Homo sapiens: one gene and its partner. The protein of the gene in region 2 purifies or fractionates together with the protein of the main gene of each other region. This does not show direct contact. Each region holds a gene or a part of one and is shown on either strand. Other genes may lie near its edges.

Evidence for each region. The genes of interacting proteins can lie anywhere in the genome.
Region 1: the proteins of GCDH (region 2) and KLHL8 purify together in Homo sapiens (affinity purification with mass spectrometry; one large-scale study listed by BioGRID and IntAct). This does not show direct contact.

Annotation. Positions count from the first base shown.
Region 1 is NC_000004.12:87,186,046-87,189,876, reverse strand, and holds part of KLHL8 (kelch-like protein 8), read left to right. Parts: intron 1-3,831. UniProt on the Homo sapiens protein: Substrate-specific adapter of a BCR (BTB-CUL3-RBX1) E3 ubiquitin ligase complex required for The BCR(KLHL8) ubiquitin ligase complex mediates ubiquitination and degradation of RAPSN.
Region 2 is NC_000019.10:12,897,330-12,900,499, reverse strand, and holds the end of GCDH (glutaryl-CoA dehydrogenase, mitochondrial isoform a precursor), read right to left. Parts: coding exon 3,072-3,170; intron 2,798-3,071; coding exon 2,637-2,797; intron 1,715-2,636; exon of another isoform or gene 1,160-1,714; coding exon of another isoform or gene 1,115-1,159; intron 1,033-1,114; coding exon 959-1,032; 3' UTR 801-958; coding exon of another isoform or gene 757-800; 3' UTR 501-756; downstream 1-500. Other genes in the region: SYCE2 (synaptonemal complex central element protein 2), read left to right, coding at 1-40, 380-496, 1,115-1,159. UniProt on the Homo sapiens protein: Catalyzes the oxidative decarboxylation of glutaryl-CoA to crotonyl-CoA and CO(2) in the degradative pathway of L-lysine, L-hydroxylysine, and L-tryptophan metabolism. It uses electron transfer flavoprotein as its electron acceptor. Isoform Short is inactive.

The DNA of each region.
Region 1 (3,831 bases), on a different chromosome or scaffold from region 2:
TTTGTATTTTCAGTATAGACGGGGTTTCACCATGTTAGCCAGGATGGTCTCCATCTCCTGACCTCCTGATCCGCCCTCCTCGGTGGATCCCGCCCAAAGTGCTGGGATTACAGGCGTGAGCTGCGCCCGGCCTTTACTAAACTTTTTTAAGTGAAGTGGAGATAGTTTACAAAATAAATGTTAACTCTTTTTTTTTTCAATAGCAACAAAAGCACAGATTTATTGAAATGAAAGTACACTCCACAGAGTGGGAGCGGGCTCGAGCAAGTGGCACTCGAGCCATGATGAAGTCCTAACTAGTGGAGTTAGGAATGCTTTGTATGTTGATAGTCAAGTGCTTTACTAATCCAAAAGCCTTATTTTCATTGTATTTCCATTCATATTGGCTAATCTCTGGAAAATTACTCAAAGTTTTTATTAATAGTTGGTATTTCAAGCTTTTTAAACAAAAGTCTAAGGAATCATTTAATGAATGTTGATATTCTACATATTTTAATACTGAAGTGTGACATGATTTTTCCCTGAGTACTGTTAAGTTTAGCCTGAAGCTCCCACCTTATGTATTTTAAACTTGGCCTAAAAGTTTCTCTGTACACAGTAAACTGTAACCTAACTGGTTGTGTAAACAGACTGCAACCTACTCTTGTGCTAATCACTGAGGTTCAGCCAATTAAAGGCAACCAGTTGTTCAACCTGTGTTCAAGTAAGGCTGACCCTGAGCTGTAACTGACCCGTCTGTTTCTGTACCTCACTTCCGTTTTCTGTGTGTCACCTTCCTTTTTCTGTCCGTAAATAATTTTCGACTATGCACCAGCACCAGTGTCTTTGAACCTATTCTTGTTCCAGGACTGCCCAATTCTTGAATCCGTCTTTGCTCAGTTAAACTCCGTTAAATTTAATTGTCTAAGGTTTTTCTTTCGTAATACTATCTTGAATTAGTCACACGTTCACTGATCTAACAAAGAAAGAATGTAAATTAGAAAATTAAGTAGTATCAGGGACATATAGTATTTATATAATTCTAAATACACGGTAATGTCTAATATTATGTAGCTTGTGTGTTTTTCATCCAATTTTAAACATCAGGTCTTTAGACTTTGATTCCTTTCATTTTCAAATTTCTAATGAAATGATTTTGGTAATTGGTAATTATTTTTTTGTACCAGAGAAAGAAAATGTACAAATAAACTTTCAGGAATGTAATTAACTATATAACATCAAAGGAGAATCAGTGCATTAAAAAGCCAAATTTTTGGCTGTTCCTATTTATACATGTGGCTTAAAGATCTTTATAAAATAAAGATGGATATTTATTCTAAAAGGGTACATAGGGGTGTATGTGTTAAATAGCCACATTTTAGTTTGTTTGAATCAAGACTCAAATGGAATTGTAAAGGGACAGAATCTTATTAAAAACAACATGAAAATGACTTGCCGGCCATTGATTTGTACAGCTTGGATGGCAAGTGTTAAAATAATGGTTATCTAGAAATTGTAGAACCCTATTTTATGATACTATTATGTAAGAGAGTGTTGGCAAGTTATTTAATGGAGCAGGTTTAAGTCATGTGAGACTTACAAATATTTGCATAGAAACTGAATCCCAGTGGTGGCATGTGGAAATAATTTTTTAAAGGATATGCTTAGGCTATTTAAAAGTTATTTAGTATCAGATTTCAGATCCCATTTTAGAGCTGACGTGAATTTGAAAACATGCCAAGCTTTATGTTATAGTCTACATTACAACTTTAGTCTCAATGGAATCTAAATACTGCCTTGTGAGTTCTGTGAAAAAATTTAATATAGCATAACAGACAGAAATGATTGTCTTGTACTTTCTGAAATAAGTGATACTGCTTCTTCCTCCACATTAGTGAAAAAAGACTGAGGAAGGGGCTTTTATAAGCAAAACCATTTATACATTTGAACACTCTAGGAGTTGTCATTTTAAAATTAGTTCTCAAATAATGAGATACAACTGTTTATTATATAATCAAAACACTACATGAAAACAGGAAAACTGTTAAAATAGTACTATAACTGTTACTTGTATTTGATTATTATAAACTCCTGGGAAAATGGGATAAATACTGTATTAAAAAGAAGATATCTTCCCACTCAGTACCAAAAACTTCCAGATGTAAGTAAAAATTTAAGTGTAAAACATAAAACCATAAAAGTAGTATAAAAAATACGTGAAGTAAATATAGAATATTAGAATGATTCCCATTTCTAGCAGGTACCTAAAACAATAAATAAAAAGACTTCATTTAATTACATAAAAATCCATAGGGTTTTTATATAAGAGAATAAAATTTGAAAGCAAACTAAAAGAGAAGTTTGAAATATATATGACAAATGCCTAATACTCTGATTATATGATGAGTACTTATAAATAAAAAATTTGTAGTTCATAGAAGAAATACAAATAGCTCAAAATTTATAAATGATTCAATCTTAAGAGCAAAAAAGAAAAAAAAAGATGAGATCTTTTTATTCATCAAATTGGCAACTATGGCCGGGCACAATGGCTCACACCTATAATCTTAGCACTTTTGGAGGCCGAGGCGGGAGGATTGCATGAGCTTAGGAGTTTGAGATCAACCTGGGCAGCATAGACTTTGTACAACAACAACAACAATAACAACACTCAAGATATGGTGCAAATACTGTAAGAAGCTCAGAAATGGACAGTTTGACATTATGTATTCACATATTCACATTGTATCCTTTGAAGCAGCATCTCTACTTACAATAATTTATCTGTTGGAATAATAGAGAATGTGAATAACGATTTAGTTACAAAGAAGTTCACTAGTGTGCTATTTGTAATAGCATACTGTTGGAAGCTATCTGATTTTTCAATAATTAAGGTGATGAGATTGCAGTGTTTTTTTTTTACTGCTTTTATGTGAGCTATATCATTTCAAGATAATGTAAATAGAAAATAAAAAAAAACCTCAGTTGAGCTCATAGTAAATACTACTAAATATTTACTCTCTGCTCCAGTTTTCTGATTGATAAATTGTGGATAATAATAGTACTTACTCATAGGGATGTTGGGACAACTGAGTTAGTATATGAAAAGCACTTAGAAGGCCAGGCTCTGTGGCTCATGCCTGTAATCCTAGCACTTTGGGAGGCCAAAGTGCGTGAATCACTTGAGCCCAGGAGTTTGAGACCAGCCTGGGCAGCATGGCAAAACCCTGTCCCTACTGAAAAATACAAAAATTAGCTGGGTGTGGTGGCACATGCCTGTAGTCCTAGCTGCTGGGGAGGCTAAGTTGGGGGATTGCTCGAGCCCAGCAGGTTGAGGCTGCAATGAGCCATGATCACGTCACTGCACTCCAGCCTGGGCAACAGGGTGAGACCCTATTTCAAAAAAAAAAAAAAAAGCACTTACAATAGTGGTTGGCATGTAATGAGTGCTAACTGATGTTTGCTGGTATTAATTCACAAAATGTCCCTGAAATATAACATAGAAAATCATGGTTTGTTGTGTGTATGTTACAGATACATATATAAAAGAGGCCGAGTGTGGTGGCTCACACTGGTAATCCCAGCACTTTGGGAGGCTGAGGCAGGTGAATCAGTTGAGGCCAGGAGTTCAAGACCAACCTGGCCAACGTGGTGAAACCCTGTCTCTACTGAAAAAACAAAACCCACAAAAATTAGCCAGGCGTGGTGGTGCACGCCTGTAATCCCAACTACTTGGTAGGCTGAGGCAGGAGAATTGCTTAAACCCAGGAGGCAGAGGTTGCAGTGAGCTGAGATTGCGCCGCTGCTCTCCAGCCTGGGCAACAGAGCAAGGCCTTGTCTCAAAAAAAAAAA
Region 2 (3,170 bases):
CGTGGAGACTGTGTACAAAGACCTGTGTCTCCAGCCTGAGGTATGAGTAAACTCACAGGGGGGGCGCTGCCTGAGGAAGAGGACAGGGATGGCCCAGCCAAGAGTAAATGTGAACAGAAACCAGGCACCCAGCCCTGACCCCGCCAGGCCACAGTCCCTGCAAAGCCCTTGGTGCACTCACCATCTTGTTTGTGATCCCCTATAACATGGTGTGTCTGAGCTGAGAAGCCAAACCGTTGTCATGTCCCACTGTTGTATGAGCAGCTCTGTGGTGACAGAAAGGACAAAGTCCCTTGCACCCCTGCCACTCAGAAATCATCCCCTCTGCCCACAGCCCTGGCACAGACCGGCACTGCTAACCTGGGTTTCTTTTTTACAGCAGAGCCTAAGACTCAGATGGGGGCCAGACCACTCTAGGGGAAAGTCCCCACCACGTCCCGGCAACTCACAGCCCCCAGACGTGTTCGTTTCTTCTGTGGCTGAAACTACTTCTCAGGTGGTTACCAGTAAACCGGCCTGACACCTTGGGGTCAGATGTGCAGGTCTTTATTTTCCTCTCCCTCACTCTGCTCCAACACCCAGCATAAGGCACTACCCCCAGATGGGAGGGAGGGAGGGCGCACTGTGAACTCAGTGTGAGGGGGTCAGCTGCAGCAGACGGAGTTGCTTCCATGTCACTCTCCTCTCAAGAGAAGCTGCTATTTCAGGGTAAATGGAGTCTGCTCTCATCCATGGTTAAAAGTGGATTGAGACGCTCTACAGAGAATTCCATCTTCTTTTTAAGGAACACATCTGAACGACTTCAGAAGGGAAATTTTGATATTTAAAAATCAGTGTCTCTCACTTCCCACTCCATCCGCCACCTCCCTTTCTAAGCTCAGAGCACAGCGCTCCTACGGTCCAGCCAGGCATCTCTCCAGAAAGGGGCTTGAGAGTTTCGGGCCCCTGATGGAGCGGCTCACTTGCTGGCCGTGAACGCCTGGATTCCCGTGATAGCTCTCCCAAGGATCAGGGCGTGAATGTCATGTGTACCTGGACAAGATTAATACAGAGTCGGTTTGGAGTTTTCATAGCTCACAACTTCCCTTTAAAATCAATTTTCATGTATCCCCAGGCCACTGCTTCAGAAGTACAGACCAACAGAGATGGTGAATGCTGACAGCTGCCGGGAGACTCACGCCTTAGTGACAGTCTCCAGGAGAAGACTGTGAGGCCACCATTTGGGCCACACTGAGAAATTGTTTTTCATGGTTCTATAATGCATCTTGGCAGAAAAAAACAAAAACCCAAAGCTCCTTGTGCTGAACTCCCAAAATGTAGCAAGTCCAGCCCCTGCCATAGGCCCAGGCTTCGTGCTCCCCACCCTTGGCAAGTTCTCCCCACCCCCAGCCCCACAGTTTATTAAATGTTTGATTTTCAACCTGGCCACGCTTCCTTGCCACAGAGGCTGAAAGCACCCCTGAGCTCCAAGGAAACACAGCAAGCCCTTTCTTACCCTCGGGAGGGATAGGAGGGACAGCACATCGGAAGAGCAGTCACTTGCCTCAGCTGACCTCTGCCCATCTGAAGCCGCCTCTCCCAGAGAATCCCACACCCCATGCCCTGGTGTCTCATCCTTTGCTCCTCCCCAGCTCCTTGAAGCAGAAGGCAGATTGTAGCCTCCTTTTTAGAGCCAATTCTGTTTACTTCCTAAAGTACAAACCTATTTTTTTTAAATATAGATAGGGTCTCACTCTGTCACCCAGGCTGGAGTGCAGTGGGGTGATCATAGCTCATCATAACTTCTAACTCCTGGGCTCAAGCAATCCTCCTGCCTTAGCCTCCCAAAGCGCTGGGATTACAGGTGTGAGCCACTGCGCCGAGCCCCTAAAGCACCAAATCTGACTCATCCCTTCTCTGCATAAAACCATCTCATGGCGCCCGCTGCTTGTCCTCAGGGTCATTCTCACATTTGTAGGATCCCCCCACCCCCCAGATGCCAGATAGAGACAAGATCTGGGGTTGCAAGGTGCGCAGGGAAGGCACCCCTCCTGCATTTGCTGTTCTCTCTGTCTGGAAGCATCTCTGCCCGGGGGGTCCTCATACCTCCCTCTATTTCTACATAGCGCATGCTGGGTTTGCACTTTTTTTTTTTTTTTAAGTATCTTTTTCCACATCTGTCTTCCCACCAAGCAAGGGGTTCTGGACCCCCATGTAAATCACCATCAGTTACAGGGTGCAAACACCGTCATCTGAAGATGACTTTTGTCTCTTAACAAAATGGAGCGTTGATTCCTGCGTGTAGCTTCGCTCACTCCCTTGCGTCCACCAGCCTGCTAGGAGTCGGGCCTCACCCCTGGGCTGCCTTCGGAGCTTACCTGTCTCAGGAACATCCCTCCTCCCGAGCATGTGGGAGAAAGAGCTGGGAGCCCCTCGCAAGGCCTGATGGGGCCTCTGTGTGCTGCATGAAGCACTTCACTTCCACAGTCCCCATGTGAGTAACTCCAGATGAGGGACAGAGGGGTAAGGCTCGCCCCAGGTCACACTGTCACTTAGTGATAGGTGGAGTTGGACTCAGACCTGTCCCCGTCCCACCTCCCTGTACCCCCTCCCCAGACACTGAGGCCTCAGTGAGCCCTCTGAGGTCCAGCTCCTACCTTCGTAGGTGTTCACGGCCTCCAGGTTCATGGCGTGCCGGATCACGTGATACTCGTCAGAAATCCCATTCCCCCCCAGCATGTCTCGGGCCTGGCGGGCGATGTCCAGGGCTTTCCCACAGTTATTCCTCTTCAGCAGAGAAACCATCTCGGGGGCAGCCCTGGGAGTGGCACATGAGGGTAACAAGGACTGGGGATCCTGGCATCCCGATGCTCCAAGCAAACCTAGCCCGGGGTGGGGATTCCCTGATGCAGCCAAGCTCCCAATGAGGGACCAGTGGGGCTGTCCTCAGCCCAGCCCATCAAGGACAAGAGGGACAGCAGAAGGTTCAGGTCCCCAGGGCCACCAGGCAGGAAGGACCTTTCTCTCCAGGAAGGACACAAGGTCCTCCAGCCACCGCTGCCATCCCCCCGCCCCCACCACACAGCCCCTACTTGTCCTGGTCCTTCAAGCGGCCGAGCTGCAGGCAGGCGTGAAGGCCCAGGGTAATCTCAGTGAGCATGTCTGCCAGCTTCTTCTGAATCAGCTGGTTC